2 linked regions of the Homo sapiens genome follow. The protein of the gene in region 1 purifies or fractionates together with the protein of each later gene. This does not show direct contact. Each region holds a gene or a part of one and is shown on either strand. Other genes may lie near its edges.

What was found.
Region 2: the proteins of CNOT4 (region 1) and MICALL1 fractionate together in Homo sapiens (co-fractionation; one large-scale study listed by BioGRID). This does not show direct contact.

What each region holds. Positions count from the first base shown.
Region 1 is NC_000007.14:135,507,293-135,511,803, forward strand, and holds the start of CNOT4 (CCR4-NOT transcription complex subunit 4), read right to left. Parts: upstream 2,811-4,511; 5' UTR 2,597-2,810; intron 1,866-2,596; exon of another isoform or gene 1,779-1,865; intron 1-1,778. UniProt on the Homo sapiens protein: Has E3 ubiquitin ligase activity, promoting ubiquitination and degradation of target proteins. Involved in activation of the JAK/STAT pathway. Catalyzes ubiquitination of methylated RBM15.
Region 2 is NC_000022.11:37,922,997-37,926,802, forward strand, and holds part of MICALL1 (MICAL-like protein 1), read left to right. Parts: intron 1-1,663; coding exon 1,664-1,721; intron 1,722-2,664; coding exon 2,665-3,047; intron 3,048-3,184; coding exon of another isoform or gene 3,185-3,201; exon of another isoform or gene 3,202-3,806. UniProt on the Homo sapiens protein: Lipid-binding protein with higher affinity for phosphatidic acid, a lipid enriched in recycling endosome membranes. On endosome membranes, acts as a downstream effector of Rab proteins recruiting cytosolic proteins to regulate membrane tubulation.

The sequences.
Region 1 (4,511 bases):
GATCTCAAGAATTCAACTACTCAACCTGGCAGAAAGTATTCCAAATTATCAAAAGAAACCATGAAAATATGAAGCTTCAGTGTTCATAACGTTAGATCAAAAAACTAAAACCAAGCAAAACTATTTAGAAATCTCAGCTCCCTATTTCCTATCAAAATGTTAAAGAACTTTAGATATCTTCTTTAAACGTACTAAAGATACAAAAGTAAATTCCTTTTGACTTCAGAGGGCTGAAATGAAGAATTCAGTAACTGCGGGCAAAAATTATGGAGGGGAAAGAATTACTTGAGAAAATATTTCGTGAGACAAATACCTTTTTTTAAAAAAAAAGATGTATTAAAATCACTTACTCCCTTCTACCAGACAAACAATCCTCTCCTAGAACTCACTGCTTACAATTCAGCCAAGTATGACTGCCAAGAGTTTCTAAACCTGTGTTAGGATTTTTAAAAGTGGAAAGCTTCTCCACCAGTGTATTACAACAAAAAGTATATTTTTTAGAGTTAAAGATCAACTATTAAATACACTCCTACTGATAAACTAAATGTAAGTGATTAAAAAAAACCCAAAACTCAACTTGTAACTTAGCACAAAGTTTGCTATATAAATTGCTTGCAGTTCTAAGAGTAGGTATTTATTTGGTCCCCCAAATTGGGGCTTAAGTGGCTGAAAGAAAAAAGTTTTATAAACAGCTTTTCTAACCTTAGTTTACATTTGGTAAAACAGACCATTTATCACAATCAAGTGAACATAATGCCAAATGTTAAGATTCCAAATTTTACAGGTAAAATTTGTAAAAATTACAATAACCCAGTAATGGACTGCCACATGAGACTGTCACTGATTTTAAACATTTTTACATATATCTTAAGAATACAATGTCATGTAAGTCATGTTTAAACTTGGGATGTATGTATTTGAACTATGTAATCTTGGTTGCTTTTCTGGTAATTCTTTATCTCACAGTGGTCTGATTATAGCCAGGGCTGCTTCTTCCCATTTTACCATTAGTCAGTACATCTTAATTTTGCTTTCACCAAAACATGGACATCATAAGCCACCTCTTGCTTCCAGTTTTCTGCTTTTTACTGTAGATAACAATGACAGTGAGTTCCACCAAATGCATGTATGTGCACAGCTTTGTCATTCTTTTCCCAGCCCCCTTCTTTTCTATGAGAAAAATACGAGGAACTTAGGTTTATATAAAAATGTCGATTTTTCTTTTGCATACATAACTAATGGATTTTCAAGACAAGACAATTTATTCTGATAACTATCATCCTAGAAATGTCAAGAGAACTTCCCAAATCCAAAAATAAGAAGAAAATCTGATATTAACTGGAGAGGAAATTTCCACTCAAATCATAAATAAAATGTCATCAATTAAGCTGAACATCAATAAAACTCAGTCAAAAATCAAGCCTCAATACAGAACCCACACATAACCCACATGTAATCAAAATATCACTTATATTTGCTAGCGGAGTTCACAGATGAATTCTGTATGTGCGCCAGATTTATCTTATTTTGTAATGCTGGGGTTAATATTTATTGGTATAAATCAGGGCCCACACTAAGTGTCCTGGGGAGAGGCAATCCAAAGAACGCTTAGTAGCATGATAAAACCGGTCCAAAACGAAAAAAAAGAAAAAAAGCCAAGTCCTAACACAACAGAGCGAATAAGCGACAAATAGATCACAGAAAGCAAAACGAAAACGGTCCTCTCCGGAGTAGCCTGAATAAAAGATCTTCACTCATAACGTTTAATAGTATCCTACCTCACTTCATTCACTTCCCAACTTCCTTTTACTTTTCAAGGGCCACCACGGGGCTTCCCTTTTTCTGGAAGTGTATATTGAAAGGATCTGTACAGGAAAGAGGGAAGGAACGGACAATTCTCAAGAAGGCTGAGAAACAGGTGGGTTAGCAGGAGGAGCATAATCTAGATACTTAAGGGGCAGCTTTAAGATGACAGATGTGGTGGAAGGAAAGACTGCAAATCGGAAGCAGCTCTAGTGTGGCAGATACACTGTGGGCTGATTGCAAGCACCAGAGGGGGGCAAAGGCTAACTCCAGAGTGGTAGCAGTGGAGCAAAAAAACAAGCAGCAGGACGAGTGGGCAATGAGCAGTGGGATTAATGAGCAGCAGCAGCCAACACGGATCAGAGTGGAAGTGATGGCTTTGGTCTTGGGAGACGGGGGCCAGAGGGAAAGGACGTCAGACAGGGAACAGGGGATTGGGGAAACAAGGAGGGCTGAGACCTAAGAATCCTGCCCCGGTGAAAATGCAGGGGGAAAAGCTGGAGACCAAAAGCCGCCTCGGCTCCCCAATTAAAGAAATTCTCGAAGGAGAGTCGCTGCTTGCCGCCGCGCTGCCTTCTGACCCGCTCCCTTTTCCTTATGGTAACTGCTGTGGCGTAAAGGGGAGAGGGAGGAAGAGGAGGAGGAGGAAGAAGACCAAGGAGGAGGAGGGTGAAGATGAGGCGGGGGGTGGGGAGAAAGGGGGGTGCGGCCTGTACAGTCCCAGCGAAGCCTCCGCTCTCTCGTAGCCGGTCAGCCCCGGGTTTCCCCTAAGCCCAGCCCCGCATAGACTCACCCGCCTGCCTTGCCTCGCTTTTCCCTCAGCCGACTCCACGGGCTGCCGCGTCCTCACAAGAAACCACCGAACGAGCGTCGGGGAAAAAACTCTTCAGAACCGGGCCTGATTGCTTCAGCGAGTCCGACCTTTACGGCTGAGAGAGAGACTCTCAGCTTTCGGTGGGTTCCACAGCCAGACGGGCCACCATCTTACATTAGGGTAAGACTCCTCCGGCCTCCCGTGCGCAGGCGCACGCTGATCCGGCCAGGAGGGGCGGGGGAGGGGCGGGAGGAGCGGCGGGCGGCTGAGTGGGAGGTTGCGGTGGCCGCTCCCGCAGCACCCTGGGAGTTGAAGTCCTCGGAGGGTAACCTCCCAGGGGCACGCCGGGAGTTGAAGTCCTCTCTCAGAGGGCGGAGGGGATCGCCCACCTCACGTGGCTGCTGGACTGATGCCTTTCTTCGTGTTTTGCTTCCTTCTCTGCACGCGTGTGCTGCTTCAATGTCATTTGGTCGGCGGTTTTCACTAGTGATTCCGTGTCCTCGGTGTTTGCGGAAATGTGCTACCCCAAGACTGGGGCGAGGCTAAACAGTTTTTCGGGGAGCCCGGAATGTTTATTCTCTGCCCCGCCCACCAGGGATATCTAAAGGGGGCGGGGTGGAGGTGGAGGCAGGTTGTGGGTACGAAGAGCGCGGGATTTGATCCAGGGTGAGAATTTGATACAGACTTGGCGTCTGTTTGCGAACAAGGAGGAAACAGGCGCCTGTTTAATTCATTTCCCTGTCCTTGCGCATTTGGGGCCACCACCCTTGATCCCTTCTTCACTGTAAAATCACCAGTGAAGACATACACTAAATTGTTCTGTGCAGATTACCCAAGAGAACGGAACACCCGTGCACTTACAATAACGTGCTTCTGTTGGTGTGAATTTGAGAATTTGCGGACCTCGGTGCAAATTAGTGTTAGTTCGGTGTCCAGCCAGCACAGCTGTGTGCAAGTTTACAAACTACACACATCGGCACATCCCCAAGAACAATAAATGCAGCCACAATCCCTACGAGCACTGAGGAATCATCAGTCACAAAAGTCAGTCAATGTACTGGTCGCCCCGTTTGCATCCCAGAACTCTGGTGGAAGTGGCGCTCGAAGCAGTAACTTTTGCTTATTGCATGTATTCTTCACCCACTCATACAGCAAATACTCAATGAGCTCCTCCTAGCTGCCGGGTACTCTTCTATATATTGAGAATACAATGGTGAGCAAAATAGAAAAAATTCCCTGTCCCTATTCTAGTGATGTGTTGGGATGAGGAAGAGGAGAGAAGAGGCATTATTTTAAAAATACGTGATTAAAATGCATAGTATGTCATAACCGATTTTAAAAACTTAAAGCAGGGAAGGGGAGTAGGGAAAGAGGTTGCAGTTTTAAATTTACGAACTTAATTTCATAATAAGCCCTCAATTCATTGTTTTTTCTTTTTTTTTTTTTTTGAGACGGAGTCTAGCTCTGTCACCCAGGCTGGAGTGCAGTGGCGCGATCTCGGCTCACTGCGACCTCCGCCTGCCGGATTCAAGTGATTCTCCTGCCTCAGCCTCCCGAGTAGCTGGGATTACAGGCACGTGCCACCACGCCAGGCTAATTTTTATATTTTTAGTAGAGACAGGGTTTCACCATGTTGGTCAGCCTGGTCTCGAACTCCTGACCTCAGGTAATCTGCCTGCCTCGGCCTCCCAAAGTACTGGGATTACAGACGTGAGCCAGGGCACCCGGCCTCATTCTTTTGGTACATTGGTTTTCTGTGTTTCAGTTTCCTCACTATAAACCTAGAGACAACAGTTACTTGGGTAAAAATTAAAATATGTAGTGAAGTCACATTTTACCCAAAGTTTGAAATTATAGAATCATGAAATGATTACCTAGCAAGGAAACTTGGGAA
Region 2 (3,806 bases), on another chromosome or scaffold:
GCGATCTCGGCTCACTGCAACCTTTGCCTCCCGGCTTCAATCAGTTATCCTGCCTCAGCCTCTTGAGTAGCTGGGATTACAGGCTACCACAGCCTGGCTAATTTTTGTATTTTTAGTAAAGATGAGGTTTCACCATGTTGGCCAGGCTGGTCTCAAACTCCCGACCTCAGGTGATCTGCCCACCTCAGCCTCTCAAAGTGCTGGGAGTACAGGCATGAGCCACTGTGCCGGGCTCTTTTTATTTTTTTTGAGACGGAATCTCACTCTGTCATCCAGGTGGAGTGCAATGGCACAATCTCGGCTCACTGCAATCTCTGCCTTCCAGGTTCAAGCGATTCTCCTGCCTCAGCCTTCCAAGTAGCTGGGACTACAGGTGCACACCACTATGTCTGGCTAATTTTTGTATTTTTGGGTAGAGATGGGTTTTCACCATGTTGGCCAGGCTGGTCTCGAACTCCTGACTTCAGGTGATCTGCCCGCCTTGGCCTCACAAAGTGCTGGGATTAAGGCCTGAGCCACCATGCCTGGCCTGTTTCTGAGGATATTAATTCCTGCCCCAAATGCCGAGTTCCTGCAGCCTCTGCCGTGCTCTGTTCTCCATGCTGGGACGGTGCAAACAATACAGACCCAGGCCCCGCCCTTACACTGCCTCCCTCTGCATGCGCTCTTTTGCATCTGTTCTTGTGGGCTTTAGTTTCAGGGTGTGTAGTAAGTGCCACTCTGCATGTGCCCGTGTGTCCCCGAGCTCTCTGGGACTCTGCACATTGGTGTCCTTCCTGTGTGTCCTGGCCCATCCACAGGCACACTGCAGGTGACCTCCATGCCCAGCCTCTATGCTTGTCTATGTCTAGAAGGGGAGAGCTCAGGGGCTTGGGGGAGAGCAGAGGGGTCAGGTGGGCCCCGGAGCCAGTGTGAGCTGCAGTGGAGACCCCTGGCCCATTCTGTGGGTGCATTCTCCCCCAACCCCACATTGTAGAATGCTCCCAGATGACCTCCCTGGGTTTCCGTGAGCTTGTAGGATTGAGACTCCTTGTATAAGGCTGCTGGGCAGCCCTTATCATTCCATTAGGGAAGGCATTGGTGGCCACGGGGAGAGAGACTCCCAGGGTCACCCTGCGACTTGCACCAGAACATTCTATTTGTTCAGCTCTTGTGGAGGCTGGATCTGAGCTGACCGCTGGGGACACAGATTACTGTTCAGGCCTATCTGTGCCTTCAGGGTGCTCCCAGTGTTGAGGTGGAGACAGGCACAGATGCAAGGGTTTCAGTGGATTGTGGAAGTCTTGCTAAGTTGGAAGGAGGGGAGCAGGGGCTGCTGTGGGATTCACAGAGGACACTTGGGAGTCCAGGACTTCCAGGAGGAGGTGGCTCCCAGGCTGACTTGAGATGATGTTTTCTGCCCACACTGGCGGGGGGTGTCTGAGGGGATTTGGGTTTCTTCTCAAATGAAATGCAAACGGGGTCTCAGGTGGCCTGGCCTTGACCCCTGACTGTTCTCAGGCACCTGGGTGCTTATCTAATCTCCATGGGCTGGCCTGGGGAGGTGCGAGGGTGCCAGGAGGAAGGCGGGGCGCTCCTGGGGAGGCAGGTGCTGTGGCTGGCTCCCTGGGTGCCCACCTCCTGCTGCCCATGAAGGCCTGGCTCACTCTCCTTTCCCATCTAGGGAGACTGCACGAACTGCCTGTCCCCAAGCCGAGGGGGACACCGAAGCCGTCCGAGGGGTATGTCGATCCCTGAGGGGCTTTCCTGCTTTGGAGGTCCTGGTGGTGGGAATCAGGGTACTCTGGGGCCGGGTAGGGAGAGAGGCTTCCTGTGGATGGGCAGGGCGGGGCTCAGGAGGGGAAGGAGAGCTGGGCCCACACCCCTTCTCCTGAGGCTCACCCCGGGATTCCTGCGGCCAGTGCCTGGCCCCCTCCCCAGGTCCCTGCTCCTGTGGGCAGTGCCCGGTGCAGGCAGCCACCTCTGGTACCCGTTGCCTCTCCAGGCTCCTTTGCCCTGTAACATGGGAGGCCGAGGCTTGATTATAGAGTTGATTTGAGGCTTAGCAGCAGAGTATAGAAAGACCTGGAAAAGCTCAGCTGTAGTACCAGTCCCTCAGGTCCTGCAGCACGGGACCCTGCTTCACGTGGAGGACATCTACTTCAGCTGTTATTTGAGGGCCATGCTTCCCCCATGTGGTCGGTCTGTAGGGAGCCAGGTGGGCCATGGCTGTGCCAGTTGTTAACGTTTACTGAGTCCCTGGCACTGAGCAGGTGCCCCAGTGCCCCGCCCAGTGCTGCACTCCATAGCTCACTGCATCCTTACACCAACCCTGTGAGGCAAGGATTATTAAGGTCCCCATTGAGTGGAAAGGGAGACTAATACAGAGGGAGGGCAGGTGACTTTCCCAGGGTACATGGATTGTAGGTGGCAGAGCCCCTGGTCGATCCTTTCCTGGGCTGGGTTAACAGCAGCTCTGTGACTTGAAGGTTCACATTCTCTGGGCCTCAAAGGCTGTGACTGTAACATTCCATTTCAGACTGTCCCCATGGGGATGGGGGTGGGAGAAGGGAAACAGCCGTTTCTCATCCACCCCCTTTGAAGTAGAGTCAAAACTGTCTAGAGAGAGAAGGAAGCTGACCCTTGCCTCTGCTAATGGTTTCTGCTGCTTCCCCCCTCCTCCAGGACACCAGCCCCCAGGAAGGACCCCCCATGGATCACGCTGGTGCAGGCAGAACCAAAGAAGAAGCCAGCCCCACTTCCCCCAAGCAGCAGCCCGGGGCCACCAAGCCAGGACAGCAGGCAGGTGGAGAATGGAGGCACCGAGGAGGTGGCCCAGCCGAGCCCAACGGCCAGCCTGGAGTCCAAACCCTATAACCCCTTTGAGGAGGAGGAGGAGGACAAGGAGGAAGAGGCTCCAGCTGCACCCAGCCTGGCCACCAGCCCTGCCCTGGGCCACCCGGAGTCCACACCCAAGTCCCTGCACCCCTGGTACGGCATCACCCCTACCAGCAGCCCCAAGACAAAGAAGCGCCCTGCCCCGCGCGCACCCAGCGCGTCCCCACTGGGTGAGTGCCTTTCCTGGAGCTCTCCTGACAGTCGGAACTCGGGGGTGGGGCCCGGGCCTGGGGAGGGGGTGTGGTGGGGCAGAGCCTACCAGGCCAGGCACCACGTGTTTCATGGGTGACTTCTCATTTAATCCTAGAGCAAACCTGTGAGTAGGTATCGTCACCTCCACTTTGCAGGTGAGGAGACTGAGGCACAGAGAGGCTAAGTAGTTTGCCTAAAGCCTCTCAGTGCTTAAGCAGGAGAGGCAGGATTTGAACCCACGGAGTCTGGCCCGAGTCCATCTCTTCACCCTCCCTGTCGTGCTCGTTAAACGTGCTGTCTAGTGGTGTGCTCAGTGCAGCGAGGGGCTCATGGAAAGGAGGCGTTTGCTTGAATCCTGCCTAACTCTGTCACTGTCGCTGCAGTTCCTGAGCGACCTGGGCTCTCACCTGGCCATGTGTGACCAGGTGTAATGACTCTGACTGTCCCTGAGTCTGTCTGTAGTCCTCCATGTGACATGGTGGCTCAGCTCCAGGCTGCTGGGCCTCCTCCGCCCAGTGCTTCCCCCCTCACCCAGGAACGCTGGAGTTTTTGGCCCTCACCTTCTCCCAGTCTTCTGATACCCTGAGCTGGGTTTTTGGCCCTAACCTTCACCATGGCTGGGTCTGGCCGCCTCTGAGAGTTCCATGGGACCCCCTCTCACAGTGGGGCAAGAGCATGCCAGAGCTGGCAGAGGCAGGTGCTCAGGGGGTCTGAGCGGAGCCCTGGGACCCCAGCTG